Regions from separate parts of the Homo sapiens genome. Here all the other regions are linked to region 3. Evidence: fine-mapped expression QTL. A gene starts in region 3. Each other region holds a variant in brackets. All regions are shown on one strand. Distances are between the middles of the regions.

Evidence for each region. PIP is the estimated chance that this variant, and not a neighbour inherited with it, causes the effect.
Region 1: its variant is the best candidate, but not a certain one, in a credible set for the expression of GRID2IP in stomach (GTEx, PIP 0.63).
Region 2: its variant is the best candidate, but not a certain one, in a credible set for the expression of GRID2IP in transverse colon (GTEx, PIP 0.69).

Annotation. Positions count from the first base shown.
Region 1 is chr7:7,275,857-7,282,270 of GRCh38, forward strand. It overlaps LINC03016 (long intergenic non-protein coding RNA 3016), which reads left to right. Exons shown (of 4, transcript NR_108073.1): 4 at 1,729-2,213. The region is part of intron 1 of LOC107986764 (a long non-coding RNA gene); the gene reads left to right. Among named protein-coding and RNA genes, the nearest start is that of LINC03016, 24 kb to the left of the region's middle. The variant G/A (reference allele first, on the strand shown) is at 3,498.
Region 2 is chr7:6,492,553-6,498,216 of GRCh38, forward strand. GRID2IP (Grid2 interacting protein) reads right to left here. Exons shown (of 22, transcript NM_001145118.2): 21 at 5,512-5,664; 22 at 4,226-5,293. The coding sequence ends at 5,222. Among named protein-coding and RNA genes, the nearest start is that of KDELR2, 11 kb to the left of the region's middle. The variant G/A (reference allele first, on the strand shown) is at 3,334.
Region 3 is chr7:6,548,340-6,554,753 of GRCh38, forward strand. It overlaps GRID2IP (Grid2 interacting protein), which reads right to left and starts at 3,122. Exons shown (of 22, transcript NM_001145118.2): 1 at 2,669-3,122. The coding sequence starts at 3,097.

The DNA.
Region 1 (6,414 bases), 730 kb after region 3:
AGAAAAAAGTGGTATTTCTGTTCTTTGAATAAAAAGCAAATGCATTTAAAACACGCATAATACACAAGTAGGTAAATTTATCAAAAGGAAAAAGTGATCAATCCTATTTAAACTACCTGTTTTACAATTGCAATAGTTTCTTATTCAGAAATGTATTAGGTCAACTTAAGTACTATTTATTACATCAGAACTACCAACACCTTTAGTACCCTGTTTGGAAGACCGAACATGGATCAGATGTTAGTCCCACCTTAGATATAGCAAATCATTTATTTCCATTTTAATAGTTGAAATTTAGAAAGCAAACGGACCCAGAGGGGATATGCCCACAAGCAGGAGATGAACGTGTTCCAAATGGCAGTATATTTCCAAGGAGACTTACAGGCTTTTTATTCCAAGGATTGGCTCAATACTTCATTACTCAGAAAGTGTGTTTGATCAGGCGAGACCTTCAAATTTGAGCTCCTCTGTGGTCAGGGGAATGCTAATGACTGTCTGACAGCTTGTCACAGACATTGGATTTTTTTTCTTAGCATCTCTGGCCAGATTTCCTGTTTTCTGGCAGCTGTGCTGGTGCAGATTGCCAAGAGGCACCATACCCACAATCTTGAGAGGATTCTGTTTCCAGCAAGCCTTCTTTTACTGTCATCTATGTATTACATCTCTATTTCAAGTCTCTCTAGAATTTATAGTCATACTGGGCATTTAGTTTCAATTTGCATTTGTTTGTTACGTGGCTTTACATGACTTTTTGTCTACTTCATGAATCTGTCCGATCTTCCCAGTAGATCTAAGTACCTGGAGGATCTGACTCTCTTTGACATAGAGAGACTCCCCAGAGACCATGCCTTTGATTTCATTTATAGCCCTTTAGGACAGTGTTTCCCCCTCAAACTCTCTTGCAGACTGGTAAATGTCCTAAATTACCATTTAGGAGTGGGGAATAGAAGGAATGGAGTAGGAAGTGAAATCCAAGACAAGTCACAGTACCTGTTCATAAAAGGGAGGGGTTGCTAGGCAGGAAATCTTTGCCACTCTGGTCTTTTCTCTTAGAGAACACTACCCAGGACTGCTCATCGATCATTGTCAACTATTTACTTTTACGTTAGGGTAAAAATGACCTTATATGCAAGTAGTAGTGATTCTTAGAGTAATATATGATGCCTAAACAATATCTGCAGGTGGTAATAAATTAGAGGTGTGACAGGGCAGTGCTTCACAAATGTTCCAGCTCAAGGTACAATCTCAAGCTTGTTCCAGCAAGTACATGCCCATGTATAGGGGTTAGGGGCTTTGTCTTCTACCTTCACCATTCCTAAGGTATTTAAATCCAAGTCTCTAATAACTTATTCTGGTTTTTAAAGAGGGTAGTTGTTCACATGATAATAATTTCAATAGGGCTGAGATGTTTTGGAGCATGGTAGATGGGCATCACTCCTACTGAGGCTTGCAGGCAAAGAGGAAGACAGATATTGACATTTCTCAGCACTGGTACATGTGCTGCAAGTCACCTATTGGTCAGTTGTAAGAGCAGGTGCAGGACAGTGTATATACAAGTCAACACTGGGAGAGGCACATGTAAGAGCTGAGGGCTTATAGCAAGGCTTGGGCAAAGCAAGGGGTATGGTTGAGCCAGAAAGTCTATGAGAATGAAAAGGCCAGGGGTAGAACCTCAGGCCTCAGATCTTGGTTAAATCCTAAAAACTACTCATTGTGCTTCTGTTGCAGACAATGCATAGGAGTGAATGAGACAGAAAGCAAGACCATGAGGATGACTAAGAAGAGCAAGTACAACATGGCTGAGACTAAGTGTCCAGGGAGTTGAGAATAAGTGGCCTATTGTCATGTCCTATATAAGTAGAGTATATGGATGGGAGGCCAAGAATACACCAACAAATAAAATATTGAATATATCGGTCAAGGGCATATCGAGATGATCAGGATGCTGCCTATTGGAATGTTTATCCTCCCACCCTACCCCAGAAGAGGAGCTTCTCGTCTTGTTCACCGCTGTTTCCCAGCTCCTGGAAGAGCCTGGCACATAAAAGGTGCACAATGAACATTCATTAAAATCAATGATTAATTGAACTGGCTAGTATTCCATCTCACTTTCATTACTGGAGAACTGAAGAGCCAGCTAGCCTACAAAAACTCATTCTGGATGTAGAAGCAATAAGAAAACATGCATTCAAATAAAAGCAGAGAATCCTTCTAATATTTCTTCATGTGTCTATCTTTTCCCATCCCCAACACATTTATTTTCCTTGACCTACAAAGGATCTGTTTTGTCCATGATGAGTCCCAAAAACAGCCCTCAAAGTGGTTCTCCCCACCTACCCCACTCCACTGATGCTGCATCACATGGTAGGGTGTTGCCTTGCTCCTCCATGCAGGGAGCTTTTCTCAGCACCACTAAGGTACCAGGGAAGTGGTAACTGGGAACAATTTTCCCCAATACAGATAAAGCCTAGATAAAAAGTAGGGTGATACATAGGCAAGGGGTAGATGGGGCCTTCCTAGAGGACACTATGTCTTCCTGAATTTAGTCCATTCATAATCAACAAACCAGCCCTACTGATTTAATGCCTAGGCTCTGCTGCCTGACTATATTTAGCAAAGCTTTTGAATGGCAGAGTGATTTCCTATAGGAATACTGAGTTTTTTCCAGGGACAGATGTAGCCTTGGTACATTGTCTGGTTATGTAGGATTTTTTTTTTTTTTTTTTTTTTTACTGCACTTGTGCTGTTCTCCTTTTTTCAACTTATAGCTGGAGACCGTTTTCTGCTACCTCAAAACCTTTTTGAAATTAACCAGTAATAAATAAGATCTTTCTCTATAGACAGCTTTTTTCAAAGGAATAAAAGAATTAGAAAATATGGAGGATCCATAGTATGCACGCCTTTGGTTCCTGAGGTCCCTTAGATGATATGGAATTCTTTAAAAATGTAGATCGATTTTGATAACATCATAATCAAGATCCTAAGAAATCACTAGCATCCATCAGATTATAAAGTTTCTGAGCAATTCTCTCCCCAACCCCCATCCTGAGCCTAACATGGTGACTTGCTCACAGCCTCACTGGATAGATACTGGTTAGATAAATGAAAGCATTCATTAATCAATGTGATGTGAAGAATTTAGATAAATGATTCCTATTTCTCTCAGTCTAACAAGGGGAAATAGTCCAATAAACATATCTGTAAGTTTAATAGAATTTGTAAGTTCCTTTGAATATTTGGAAATCTATGATTTCATTTTTAAGACACACAGAATCTATTATGATAGAGCACTGAATTTTATTCAGTTAGGTAATTTTGTGCCTCTTATTTTTAACCAGTTTGGTGTCTTTCTTGTGCTTTTCACTATAGTATTCATGGATCCTATTAACAGTAAAGAAAGTGGCAGACGCCAGGCATGGTAGCTCATGCCTGTAATCCCAGCACTTTGAGAGGCTGAAGCAGAATTATTTGAGGCCAGGAGTTCAAGACCAGCCTGG[G/A]CAACATAGTGAGAACCTTTTTGTTGTTACTGTTGTTGTTGTTTTTTAAAGAGAGAGTAGAGATACTAGGTTACTCCGTGGTGAGGCTTGGGATGGTGGTGGGAATGGAGTGGAGGAGGGACTTCCTTCCCAATGACTAGATATGTCTTAATTTGTAAGACGGCTCTCTCCCATGTGACTTTCTCTCCTCTACCTATGTCAACTTTGTGTTGGGAGTGTTCAGGACAATATGTGAATGGAAAATTCATAAATGAATGTACCAATAGAAATAAAGATACATGTGGGTGTTGCTTTTTCACTTTTTCAATGAAGATCTGATCCTTTGGTGTTTTACTTGGTCCCAATCCCACTTTTCCACAAGTTGTGGCTAAGGACTTGTCCTTGATTATAAGATTCTGGTTGTTGAAACTGTTATTTATGCATGAAGGACTACTCAGAATATCACTGTAATTACACATCTGCCCCTCTGAGTTCTTCAAAAATAGGAACATGACAGATATGTTTGGAAAAGGTTAAAAATATGCTTAATGCTAAAAGGAAAATGAGCTAAAATTTTCCTGGTATTGTATTATAGTTCTATATTTTATGATGATCTTTATTGCAATAGTTATACCTTGACTTTACAAAATTCTTTCATGTTTTAACCCTTGGTGTCCATACTTTTGCCTTTGGGAATATCATGCAGGCTTGATGTAACCATTTTGCTTATAAGACAAGCAAATTGGACCAGCCACAGTGGCTCACACCTTTAATCCAAGCACTTTGGGAGGCCAAGGGGAACAGAACACTTGAGTCCAGGAGTTCGAGACTAGCCTGGGCAACATGGTAAAACCTTGTCTCTACTAAAAATACAAAAATTTGCCAGGCATGGTGGCACACGCCTATAATCCCAGCTACTCAGGAGGCTGAGGCATGATCTTTTGTCAATTTAGTTTACAGGGCCCCAGCAACAGAACCTTGAAGGGTAAAAGAAAAGAAACCGTGTTCTTCCCTGCAATACAATAGGAGAGTTCAAAGGATGTGACTCAGGGTAGGTCAGAGATCCACAAGGGTTTCATTTCTGTTGTCAAAATAAGTACAGTGAAAATACCTACGAAAAGTAATAATTTAGAGACTATTAGTAAATAGTTCTTTGGTATAAGGTAATTTGTCATATTATTTGACTGGGGAAGGAACTTAGGTCATCCTCAGCTCTGGGATGCCTACACGGCAGGCAGATTGGTGCTTTTTGCAGCCTCACAGAAGACAGAAACAAGCAGAGGGCAAAAGATAGAACTCAGAAGGAGAAAGTCTAGTTGACAGAGCAGGAACATCGCCATCTTGGACAAGCACTGCCATTTTAATGTTCACCTTCATCAAAAACCTCGTAAATCCAAGGGCATCAGCCTAATGACTAAGGTCAGAATGACCATAAGCCACAAATGACATCTCTTACCAGAAACATTCCAACCATAAGATAAACCCCTCCCCAACCAGAGACTTGCCAGCCCCAAGATAACCTCCCCTCCAGCCAGAGAGATGTCAGCCCCAAGATAACCTCCCCTCCAGCCAGAGACATTCCAACCCTGCAATAAATTTCTCCCCCACCAGAAACATTCCAAGCCTGTGGTAAGTTCTCTCACCCTGAACCCTTAAATACTTATTCTGTAAGACAGAAGGCTCCTAACCAAAAATCAGCCAGAAGCCCCTCTCAGGTTTATTCTCCAAAATAAACCTGTCTTTGACGGTTGAGCTGCTTTTCATGTTTCTTTCCTCTTTGGCTCTTATGCTAGCGCTGTAGTGCTACTTCACTATTTTTTTTTCTAGAACAGCTGAAATTCTCTTTTTATGTAGAATGAGACTCAGGGAGATTTGATCACTTTATAAATTTTTTTTCAAAGCAGGTCCCATTTCTTTCCATCCCTTTCAACAATCCTCAGTGCCTTATATAAATGACAGTTTTCTAATAAATGACAATATTCTAGCTTAGTAGACAATAAACAAAATGGAGAGGGAGAGTTTTGCATAGTCTTAAATAATAGCTAAATAAAATATAATCATCAACTTAAAGATGAGAACTCTAATTACCACATATTGTGAACAATTTCCATATAATTAACTGTTGTTTAGGCTATAGAGTAACTAAGACAGCTCTCTGGTTTTCCTGTATGTAGAAAACATATTGGTTTGGCAGATGTTTTACTTACTATCAATTGCTTTTCAATAGATAGTTTCTCTTCCTTTGCAGTGAATTCAACACAATCCACTTAAAACAACAAATGTTTATTGAGTAATCAGTACATACAAGGCAATATGTTAGGCCTGAGAAGAAAAACAAAAATAAGCCTCAATACTTTCTCTTGAGAAGGTAACAAAAAGGAATAAAATGTATGTGTAAATTATGATAATCTGTGGCAGAAAAAGTAAGTGAATAAACATTTCATCTGGGTGGAAAAGTTTGGTCTTACATTTGTGATGATACTAGAAGGTAGGCAAGATTTAAAGGGCTGAGACTAAGGAGTTTCCAAGAAAAGGGAACACTGCCTATGAAAATATGAGGCAGATAATCTTGAAGTGTCTTAGTTTTTTCAAGTTTCTATAACAAAATATAAACCACGTGGCTTATAAACAATAGCAATTTATTTCTCACTGTTCTAGATGCTGGTCCAAGATCAAGGCACCAGCAGATACAGTGTCTGGTAAGAGCCCATTTCCTCGCTCCTAACTGACACCTTTCTTGCTGTATCCTTAGATGGTAAAAGGGGCTAGCTAGCTCTCTGGTGTATCTCTTATAAGCATACTAATACCTGTCATGAGGGTGGAGCCTTCATTATCTAATACCTTCTAAAGGCCTCACCTCCTAATACCATCACCTTGGACATTAGGATTTTACCATATAAATTTGGGGAGGACAGAAACATTCAGACTATAGCAGAGT
Region 2 (5,664 bases), 56 kb before region 3:
GTGAAACCCTGTCTGTACTAAAAATACAAAAATTAGCCAGGTTTGGCAGTGTGTGCCTGTAATCCCAGCTACTTGGGAGGCTGAGGCAGGAGAATCACTTGAACCCAGGAGGTGGAGGTTGCAGTAAGCTGAGATCGCGCCACTGCACTCCAGCCTGGGTGACAGAGCAAGACTCCATCTTAAAAAAAAAAGAAGAAGAAGAAGAAAGAAAGAAGGAGGATAGAGGAGGAAGGAGGAGGAGGGAGGAAGGAGGAGGAGGAGGAGACAGAGACGGAGATGGAGAGGGAGACGGAGACAGAGAAGGAGAAGGAAGAAATGCCGGGGAGAAAAGACCGAGTGAGGACACAGGGAGAAAGCTTGTCTGCAAGCCAAGGAGAACAGCCTCAGGAGAGACCCAACCTGCTGACACTTTGATCTTGGACTTCCAGCCCCCAAAACTGTGGGAAAACACATTTTTTCGTTTAAGCTGCCCAATCTATGGTATTTTTATCATAGCAGCCCTAGCAAACGAATAGACGGAACAGGAAGAGAGAAAAGAAGTAAGGGTTTTATGTTGAAACCCCCAGCATCTGTGGCCCTTAGAGTGCTGATACGTGTGTGTGTGTGTGTGTGTGTGTGTGTGTGTGTGTGTGTGTGTGTGTGTGTGTGTGTGTGTGTGTATGGCAGCTATTTTCACTCAGAGGATGGGGCTTTTGGATTTAGACAGACTTGGGTTTTAGATCCAGCAAGTCACATAACCTTCCTAAGTTTCAGAGTTTTACTTGCAAAAAAGAGGTAATGAAATCCACCTTGGGTTTTTGTGAAAGTAAAATGAAATGAAATCCGTAAAAACACTGAGCACACTAACGAACCACTCACGGATATTACTATCTGGAAAGGTGGTGTATCGTGAGGCTACGTTATTTTGTTAGTATTATTGGAGATAAATGAATTCCTGAGGCATAAGTGCCTGCATTCACACCTTGTCATTTGGTGAGGAACTAGGGGGTCTGGGTGGATATGGTACAGATATTGAGTCACATACAGGGCTTTGCACTGACTCTGGGGTAGAACCACCATAAAACATAACCCCAGGTAACCAGACTCAGAGAGGCTGCCTTCTAAGATGCTGGTACCTAGCAACGCACCTGGCACACAGTAGGCAATTAAAAAGCACTGGCCGGCCTGGCGCAGTGGCTCACGTCTGCAATCCCAGCACTTTGGGAGGCTGAGGCAGGCGGATCACGAGGTCAGCAGTTTGAGACCAGCCTGGCCAACATGTTGAAACCCCATCTCTACTAAAAATACAAAAATTAGCCGGGCGTGGTGGCACATGCCTGTAGTCCCAGCTACTCAGGAGGCTGAGGCAGGAGAATCGCTTGAACCCGAGAGGCAGAGGTTGCGGTGAGCCGAGATTATCCCACTGTACTCCAGCCTGGGCGACAGAACAAGACCCTGTCTCAAAATAATAATGATAATAAAAATATATAAAATATAAAAAGCAGGCCAGGCGCAGTGGCTCACACCTGTAATCCCAGCACTCTGGAAGGCCGAGGAGGGTGGATCACGAGGTCAGAAGATTGAGACCATCCTGGCTAACACAGTGAAACCCTGTCTCTACTAAAAAATACAAAAAATTAGTTGGACGTGGTGGCGGGTGCCTGTAGTCCTAGCTACTCGGGAGGCTGAGGCAGGAGAATGGCATGAACCCGGGAGGCAGAGCTTGCAGTGAGCTGAGAGATTGTGCCACTGCACTCCAGCCTGGGCGACAGAGTGAGACTCTGTCTCAAAAAAAAAAAAAAAAAAGGCATTGGCCAATGAGTGCAGGAAGGAAGAGCACTCACTGAGTACTGAACATCTATCAGCATCTGTTAATGGGTCTGTTAGTTAACCCTTTCAGGGTTGTAAGTAATAGCAACCATTCAAACCAGCCTAAGCCAGGGAATTTAAATACATTTAAAATTCTTTTAAATGTAAGGAGAATCTGTTGTCTTGAAGACTGACAAGGCCAGTGTGTGCTTCAGGTATGGCTGGATCCAGGGACAGTGGGATGTATATGGTGATCTTCTCCCCGTTTTTTCTCCTGTGCTAGCTTTATATCCAGGCAGGTGCCCTTCATATGGTGGTCTTGGCAGCCCCTCCTGACTCCTACCTTCTATACACCCAGAAATTCCAGAGCAAAGGGAATCTCTTTTTCAAACAGTGCCAGCCGGAGGCTTGGACTGACTCTGAGCCACACAGCCAGAGTCACAAGATCATCTTTATCCAATCACTCCAGCTCCAGGCCCTGGGAGTAGGGGAGAGATAATTTCTGAAACGAGAAACAGGAATCCTTTCCCAGCAGAAGGGCGAGACTGGTTGCCAGGCAGGCAGACCACACTGCCCACCGGACTAAGTATCTATTTCATTTATTTATGTATTATTATTATTATTTTTTGAGACAGAGTCTCCCTCTGTCACCAGGGCTGGAGTTCAGAGGCGCAATCTTGGCACACTGCAACCTCTGCCTCCCAGGTTCAATAGATTCTTGTGCCTCAGCCTCCCGAGTAGCTGGGATTACAGGCGCCTGCCACCACACTTGGCTAATTTTTGTATTTTTAGTAGAGACAGGGTTTCACCATGTTGGCCAGGCTGGTCTCAAACTCCTGACCTCAAGTAATCCACCTACCTCGGCCTCCCAAAGTGCTGGGATTACAGGCATGAGCCACTGTGCCCAGACTGGACTAAGTATCTGGATAGAAGTCAGGTAATTCATGGGTGACCAGGTAAGACACAGAAGCATGCCACCTGGTGAGTACATGGGGATGGGGAACCAGATCTGTGCTGGGTCCAGGCAGCACCAGTGCCATTGGGGATTTTAAGGAGGCTGGGATCTGCACCCCTGGCCAAGAGGTCATCCAGTAGATTAATTGCAAAAATGCTCCTGATTCTCCATCTGTCCCTGAATCCTCACCCTGTGTGGAGTGGCTTTGCGATATCTCCTAGCAGAGCCTGTTTCCCTTCCCCTAGAATCAGGGCTGGCCTTGTCATTTGGATGGACAGCAGATTGTGGCAGAAGGCACGGTGTACCAGCTCTGAGCCTCAGCCTCAAGCCATCTTCTGTGCCTTTGGTTGTTCACCTTCTTTGACCCCCAGTCCCCTCATGAAAAAAATCCTGGCTATTTGGGTGCAAAATGAGAGACCCCACAGGGCTATCCCAGCTTTTCCAGCCAAAGGCCCCAGACATGAGATTGCTTGGTATGATTACCAAAGCTGCCTAGCTGACTCATAGCTGACTGAAGATGCAGAGCCTAGCTCAGATCAGAACTGGGACCCAGAGACTTGTGAGCAGTAAGTGATTGCTGTTTGAAGCCA[G/A]TGAGTTTTGGGACAGTTTGTTATGCAGCGTTGTTGTAGCAAACAACCAATAAAAGGCATGCTAGGGAGAAAACCTAGCTGGTGCTTGGCCTGCCACACTGTGCAATCAAGAGGTTAGGTCTCCTGGAAGGGACATGTGTTTCTAACTTGCAGGAAAATGCCATGTGGGCTAACCAGGCCTGGAAATCACGCCTGTTGGAGTCTATTATCTCTACAGATCTTATGCAGGGTTTTTTTTTTTTTTTTCAAATGGAGTCTCACTCTGTCGCTCAGGCTGGAGTGCAGTGGCAGGATCTTGGCTCACTGCAACCTCCGACCCCCAGGTTCAAGCAATTCTTCTGCCTCAGCCTCCCAAGTAGCTGTGAATACAAGCGCGTGCCACCACGCCCGGCTAATTTTGTGTATTTTTAGTAGAGATATGGCTTCACTATGTTGGCCAGGCTGGTCTTGAACTTCTGGCCTCAGGTGATCCACCTGCCTCAGCCTCCCGAAGTGTTGGAATTACAGGCGTGAGCCCCCACGCCCTGCCTGCAGAGGTTTTAACTGACCTCCTGACATGTTTCCCAGAGACACAGGCACTGGGAACTTTTGGAAACAATTCTGCTTGAGCTGCTAGGGTGAAATGTACCCCACTAGCCACATCCCCCTTGCAGTATATATTTTGGTTTTGATGTTTTTGTATGGTGCTTGTGTGCAAGGAACAAAAAAACAAAGGTGGCTTCCAAGAGGGGCCTAGGGGAGACTGGGAAGAACTGAACAGGTTCCCAGTACTGCCCAGGTGCAATGTAAGCCATTTGATTGCAGTGGGAGAAAAAGAATCCATGAGACAGGATTAAAGCCCATTTCAGACTTTTCCAAAAAAAAAAAAAAAAAAAAGTGCAACGAGGGAAGCTGTCTGATCCAAGGATCTGTCAATCAGAGAATTTTAAAAAAGGTGAAACAGTTCACACACCCTCCCTCCCTGCCCACCACGCCACCTGCTCCTGCTCCTGGTATCCAGGTAACTCCTGCTATATGCCTAGGCACATGTAAAATGACCATTTGGGTCCCAAACACATCCCAGATTGTGTCATCTGCCCCCACACCTGCCCCGGTCTCATGACTTGCTCCAGGGAACATCACCATCCGTCCAGGTGAGAAGTCTGGCAGTTGGCCACCAGATCCTGCTCACCTCCTGCCTCAACACCTCCCCATTCTGTCTGCTCTACCTTGACCACACCTATTCCACTCCCAGGCTCCCCACTTCCAATTGGGCCACCTCTACACAGGTTTGGGTTTGTCCACTGCATGAAACCTCAATTCCGCAGTCTGACATAGGGGGTCTTCCTTCTCCAGTCCTTCCTTCCCTGCGTCTCTCCCAGGCTTCTCTCTTCCTGTGTCCCTGAAGCCAGCTTCCAAGGCCCAGGCTGGGCGTGCACATCCCCAGGGCCCCTCTACATCCGGCTTTCTGCCCTCTCGCGTCTCGCGCCTGCCTGCAGGGTCGTGCTCAAGGGTGTCGGCCCCCTCACAGGGACCCACTAGGAGCAGGATCAGAAAAAAGGTCCACATGTCCCAGGAATGTGGCCACTTTGTAATCCACCCTCCAGGCCCCCCTGACAGCCTGGGAGCGAAGTGGGAAGTGGGCCCAAGAAGCCGACAGAGCACGGTCCTCCATGTGCAGGCACACTCAGCACCTGCTCCTACAGCATCTGGCTCTGGGCCTGGGGGTAGGAACAAGGGCTGGCAGAGGAGGGCCCGACCACAGCTCGGCGGCTGAGGTAGCTGCAGGAGAGGCTGGCGGTGTGCTCAGAGCCCGGGGCACAGTGGCCCCGGACCTCGGCAGTGTCTGGGCTGCCCTCTCGGCCTCCATCTCCCTGCTCAGGCCGCAGAGGACGCGGTGTGGCCACTGTCACCAGGCCAGGGGTGAAACCATCCCGGAGCTGCGCAGGCCCTCCCCGGCCTGCAGGTCACTCAGCGCTCGCTGGGGAGGGGGAACACAGAGGTAGGGTGGTCAGTGGTCCCAGGAACCTGTGACGCCTTCCCTGTCTCTTCCCACACTAGACAGCCCATCAGGGGGTTAGGGGGACATGTCGCTCACTGGAGCCCCTTTCCCAGCCCTGGCTTCATGGAGGATCCCTTCATTTGGCCTCTGGCCCCCACCTCTCCAAAAGGGCCCCTCAGGGCTCCAGCGAGGCTCACCTCGAATTTGCTCATGAACTCTGCAAAGATGCCGAAGAAAGCCTCAGAGGTGGTGGCCTTGGAATCCTCCCCAAAGAAGGCCAGCGCCTTGCCCAGCTCCTCCATGGCCTCGCGCTGCAGCCCGTCGAGCGCCCGAAGTGCTGGCTGGGCCGT
Region 3 (6,414 bases):
ACTCTGGCTCCAAAAAAAATAAATACAAACTTAAACGGTGTAGATGGATTGTTTATAACTCAAAAGATAAATGCTTGAGGGGATGGGTACCCCATTCTCCATGACATGCTTATTTCACATTGCATGCCTGTATTAGAGTATCTCAGATACCCCATAAATATATACACGTATTAGGTACCCACAAAAATTAAAAATCAAAATAATGTAAAAAAAGTTGGCCAGATGCGGTGGCTCACGCCTGTAATCCCAGCACTCTGGGAGGCCGCAGCAGATGGATCACGAGGTCAGGAGTTCAAGACCAGCCTGACCAATATGGTGAAACCCCATCTCTACTAAGAATACAGAAAAAAAAAATAGCTGGCCATGGTGGGGTACGCCTGTAATCCCAGCTACGCGGGAGGCTGAGGCAGGAGAATCACTTGAACCCAGGAGGTGGAGGTTGCAGTGAGCCGAGATCACACCACTGCACTCCAGCCTGGGTGACAGAGCGAGACTCTGCCTCAAAAAAAAAAAAAAAAAAGTCTATGAGCTTAAGTGTCCCAGCCGCCAAGCAAATACTGAGTTTCCAGGCTTCATGTCCACAGGGGTCCGATAGCCAGGCAGGGGTAGGGACTGAGTGTCTTGGCTCCGGACTATTTCCTAGTCGCACACAGGATCACTTTTTGTTCCATTCAAGTATTAGTGAAATAAAGGCCTTAGGACCCCATCTGAAAGCCCTGGAGGACAGGAGTGAAGGTGAATGGCATGGGAGGTTGCTGTACTGGGACCTAGTCAGTGGCCTGGGGTAGCTGTAACCATACTAGGCAGCTTCTTCTTTTATAACCATGTCACGTCCCAGGTTTCTTGGAATTGCCTGGATCTGTCCAGTAAATGGCAGGTTCCTGCAAATCAGGGGTTGCTTGGGATTCAGGCCTGAGACCGACTCTATCCTCCCTCTTTCCATCCCAGCCCTGGGTCTCTAAATGGTGCCTCCATCTTGGCTTGTGGCCACACCCTACTTCCTGCAGGTGACTCAGGCCTTGGGTTCTTCTTGTGGCTAGAGGTCTGATCCATTCCAGGCTCCTCATTCTTAATCTTCAGGACCACGCTAATATTCCACCTGCAGTCTATCACAGCCTGGTTTGTGCCAAAGTCAAGAGGAAATGCCTTTGGCAGATTGGTGAAGCCAAACTAGGGCCTCCTGCAGCCAACAAGCCAGCCAGGCCGCTGTGCAAGGGCAGGTCTAATCCTGGTTTTGTGGGGGCTTAGAACAGGCGGAATTCTTTTACATTTTTTTGGAGGTGGGGAATGGCGGGGAGGGGAATGGAGTCTCACTCTGTCACTCAGGCTGCAGTGCAGTAGCATGATCTCAGCTCACTGCAACCTCCGTCTCCCAAGCTCAAGTAATCCTCCCACCTCAACACCCTTGAGTATCTGGCACCACAGGCGCGCGCCACCACACCTGGCTGGTTTTTTTTTTTTTTATATTTTTGATAGTGATGGGATTTCACCACATTGCCCAGGCTGGTCTCAAACTCCTGAGTTCAAGTCATCAGCCCTCCTCAGCCTCCCAAAGTGCTGGGATTACAGGCGTGAGCCACCTCACCCCACTGGCTCTTTTACACTTGATCTTAGATGAAGGGCCAAGAAGCGATATCTGTGGCTCTTTTTATTTTATCTTTTTATTTTAGAGATGCGGTCTCACTCCGTTACCCAGGCTGGAATGCAGTGGTGCAGTCATGGCTCACTGCAGCCTCAAACTCCCAGGCTGAAGCGATCTTCCTGCCTCAGTCTCCTGAGTATCTGGGACTATAAGGCATGCACCACCATGCCAAGCTAGTTTTTGATTTTTTTTGTAGAGATGGTGTCTCATTACGTTGCCCAGGCTGGCCTTGAACTCAGGGTCTCAAGTGATCCTCCCACCTTGGTCTCCTAAAATGCTAGGATTACATCTAGCACCTGGCCTGCAGTTAAGTTCTAATGGGGAGGATAGACAGAGAAAGGGGCACGTGGGAACATTCTGGTGTCAATTATTCTATAGTCTACATTATATTTTTATCTATATCCTATTATTTTATATATTGATCAAGAGGGTGGTTATTCAAGGGTGCATGTATATGGAAAATTTATTGAGCTGCACACTTAATGCACTTTACACCTATAGTACCTTAATAAAAAAGAAACACAAGTGAATAAAAATTGCAAAATTAGGCCGGGCGCAGTGGCTCATGCCTGTAATCCCAGCACTTTGGGAGGCAGAGGTGGGCAGATCACTTGAGGTCAGGAGTTTGAGACCAGACTGACCAACATGGTGAAACCCCGTCTCTACTAAAAATACCAAAAAAAAAAAAAAAAAAAAAATTAGCTGGGTGTGGTGGCAAACGCCTGTAATCTCAATTACTGGAAGACTGAGGCAGGAGAATCACTTGAACTTGGGAGGCAGAGGTTGTACTGAGCCAAGACCTGGCCACTGCACTCCAGCTTGGGTGACAGAGCGAGACTCTGTCTCAAAAAAAAAAAATGCAAAATTGTTTGCAAGGTTTTGAAGTTGAGCATTCCCATATTTCTGTTAAATCTGACCCCAGAAGTTTCCTTACCTCTGGCCCTGGGAGAGCGGCGCCCGGCCCACTCCCTGCCCACATTATGAGCCCCCTCCTTCCCGCCCCCACCTCCCACCCCCGCGCCTTACCTTGCGGCTGAACTCTTGGGCCTTGCGCCTGCGCTCTCGGTGCACCGCGTCCGGGCGCTTGCGGCCGGCCAGGCGAAGCAGCTCACGGCCCAGAGCTAGGCCGCGGCCGCACCGCGGGGCCCGCAAGACTGTGGTCGGGGCCGCGGGGCCGGATCCTGGGCCGGGGCCACCGTCGGGAGCCGGGAGCACGCCCAGACTGGGCGGCACACGTGGGCAGCGCCGTGCCAGGCGCACGAGGCGCTCGCGGCTCAGACCGCCCACCGCCAGCCCCTCCACCTCCAGGATCTGGTCTCCTGGCCGCAGTCCTCCGGCATGCGCGCTGCTCCCCTTGGCCACCTCCAGGACGAAGCAGGGGCCAGAGCCACCTAGCCGGAAGCCAAAGTCCTCTGGCCAGCCCTGGTTCGTGGCCGGCGTGGCAGTGGTGGCCATGCACCTAGAACTGGAGACAGAACAGGGATTTCCTTGCTGCTCTGTCCATGGCTCCAAAGCCACTCAAAGGCCCAGGGCCACTGAAGGCCTCTACTTATCTCTGCCTCCTCCCTCTGACTCCGTCTTTGTCTCAATTCCCTTCCATCTATGTTTTTTTGTTTTGTTTTGTTTTTGTTTTTTTAAGACAGAGTTTCGCTCTTGTTGCCCAGGCTGGAGTGCAATGGCGTGATCTCAGCTCACCGCAACCTCCGCTTACTGGGTTCAAATGATTCTCCTGCCTCAGCCTCCTGAGAAGCTGGGATTACAGGCATGTGCCACCAAGCCTGGCTAATTTTGTATTTTTAGTAGAGACGGGGTTTCTCCATGTTGGTCAGGCTGGTCTCGAACTCCTGACCTTAGGTGATCTGCCTGCCTTGGCCTCCCAAAATGCTGGGATTACAGGCGTGAGCCACCGTGCCTGGCTTGCCTAATTGTTGTATTTTTAGTAGAGACAGGGTTTCACTATGTTACCCAGGCTGGTCTTGAACTCCTGGCCTCAGGTGATCTGCCTGCTTGGCCTCTCAAAGTGCTAGGATTACAGGCATGAACCATCATGCCTGGCTTGTTTTTTTGTTTTTTGTTTGTTTGTTTGTTTGTTTTTACTAAAAACAAAATTGGGGAGGGGGTGTAAAAGAAAAATGGCCCTTCCTTAAAGTCTTCTTTTGAGTGCCTTGGATTTTTAACCAATGCGGCCACATCCTTTTCCATGGGCCCCTCCTGCTTCCACAGGTCTGTTTTACTGTCTTACATGTACACTTGGCTTCCATGGGCCCTCCTCACTCCCTACACTTTAATCCCTCTTCTTACCCCTCTCCATCTACCAAAATTCCCTTTCGGGATCTGGCATGAATCACAAACTTACGGAAGTCCAGAATGTTGGAGCAGAATGGTCCCTCAGAGACCATTCATATCTTTGGGCATTTATTTTATTTTATTTTATTTTTGAGACAGAGTCTTGTTCTGTCACCCAGGCTGGAGTGCAGTGGTGTGATCTCGGCTCACTGCAACCTCTGACTCCTGGGTTCAAGCGATTCTCCTGCCTCAGCCTCCCGAATAGCTGGGATTACAGGTGTCCACCACCATGCGCGGCTACTTTTTGTATTTTTAGTAGAGACAGGGTTTCACCATATTGGCCAGGCTGGTCTCCAACTCCTGACCTCAGGTGATCCACCTGCCTTGGCCTCCCAAAGTGCTGTGATTACAGGCGTGAGCCACCGTGCCCAGCCTCTTGGGCTTTATTTTTTAGAGGCAAAGTCTCACTCTGTCACCCAGTCTGGAATGCAGGAACACCATCATATCTCACTGCAGCCTTGACCTTCCAAGCTGAAGTCATCCTCCTGCCTCAGCCTCCTGAGTAGCTGGGATCACAGGCGCATACTACCATGCCCAGCTAATTAAAAAAAAATTTTTATAGAAATGGGGTCTCACTATGTTGCCCAGACAGGTCTCAAACTTCTGGGCTCAAGCGATCCTCCTTCTTCAGCCTCCCAAAGTGCTGGGATTACACATGTGAGCCACTGCACCCAGCCTGGGGGAGACTTTAGAAACCTCCTCAGAGGCCGGGTGCGGTGGCTCACGCCTGTAATCCCAGCACTTTGCGAGGCAGAGGCGGGCGGCTCACGAGGTCAGGAGATCGAGACCATTCTGGTTAACATGGTGAAACCCCGTCTCTACTAAAACTACAAAAAAAATTAGCCAGGATGGTGGCGGGTGCTTGTAGTCCCAGCTACTCGGGAGGCTGAGGCAGGAGAATGGCATGAACCCGGGAGGCGGAGCTTACAGTGAGCCGAGATTGCACTACTGCACTCCACTCCATCCAGCCTGGGCGACAGAGCGAGACTCCATCTCAAAAAAAAAAAAAAGAAAGAAAGAAACCTCCTCAGACCCAGCATGTGGCGTGTCTGCACTTTGAGACAGGAGAGGGCCCTAACCCAAGGTCACCCAGCTGGGGAATGGCAGTGCCAGGTCACCCTCAGGCCCCATCCAAGGCTGTCTCCACAGAGCCTCCACACACACCTCAGGCAAAGCCTCAAACCTCTGTCCAGACGTCTCCTGCCTGGCTTGAGGATGCCCTCACTGGCTTCCCCTCACTCGTGTTGTAGGAGGTGGAGTGGGTTGATGTCCTCTTTCCTATGCCCTAGGATTTGGGGAACAAACATTTATGTACTGGCCCTGGTGGCCAGGGTGAGCATTGACCAGGCTGGCCAATCACTGTATCTCAGCCTTTGTGTCCTACAGAGGGCTTTTTGGAGCCCCTGCAGAGTTGATACTTTGGTCCTGAGAGAGAACGGTCTTTCTGTGGGTCCGTTGGCTGTATGGACGTCAAAGGTTTGGGGCTGCTGGCAGCCATGTTGCCACCCTGTGGAGGATCAGTTCTTATGACATCATCCGAACTCCTGGATCCAGCTGTGCCTGAAATGCACCCAACTTACATTTGACAGAAGGACTTCTCAGTAACACAGGCTCATAAATTCCTCTTTTTGGTTGTTGTTTTTTAAAGCCTGTTTGGCTGGATGAGGTGGCTCACGCCTGTAATCTCAGTGCTTTGGAAGACTGAGACAGGAGGATCACTTGAGCCCAGGAGTTCAAGACAGCCTGGACAACAGAACAAGACCCTGCCTTTTTTTTTTTTTTTTTTTGAGACGGAGTTTCGCTCTGTCACCCACACTGGAGTGCAGTGGCTCGATCTTAGCTCACTGCAACCTCCACCTCCCAGGTTTAAGCAATTCTCCTGCCTCAGCCTCCCGAGTAGCTAGAATTGCAAGTGTACACCACCATGCATGGCTAATTTTTGTATTTTTTTTGTAGAGACAGGGTTTTGCCATGTTGGCCAGGCTGGTCTCAAACTCCTGGCCTCAGGTGATTCACCCGCCTCAGCCTCCGACAGTGCTGGGATTGCAGGCATAAGCCAGACCCTGTCTTAAAAAAAAAAATTAGCTGAGCATGATGGTACACACCTGTAGTCCTAGCGACTCAGGAGGCTGAGGTGGGAGGATTGCCTGAACCCAGGAGTCTGAGGCTGCAGTGAGCCATGATGGTGCCACCACACTCCAGCCTGGGAAGTAGAGTGAGACCCTGTCTCAAAAATAGACAAACAAATGAATAAGTAAATAAATAAATACATTTAAAAAAATTTAAGGCTGTTTAGAGTTCAGATGCAATCACTTGCAACTAGTGGGACACTCAGTGCTAGAAACCTCTAAGTAAAGAGGAAACAGGAAGAGCTCTCATATGAAAGTTGCATCTCGGCCGGGCACGGTGGCTCACGCCTGTAATCC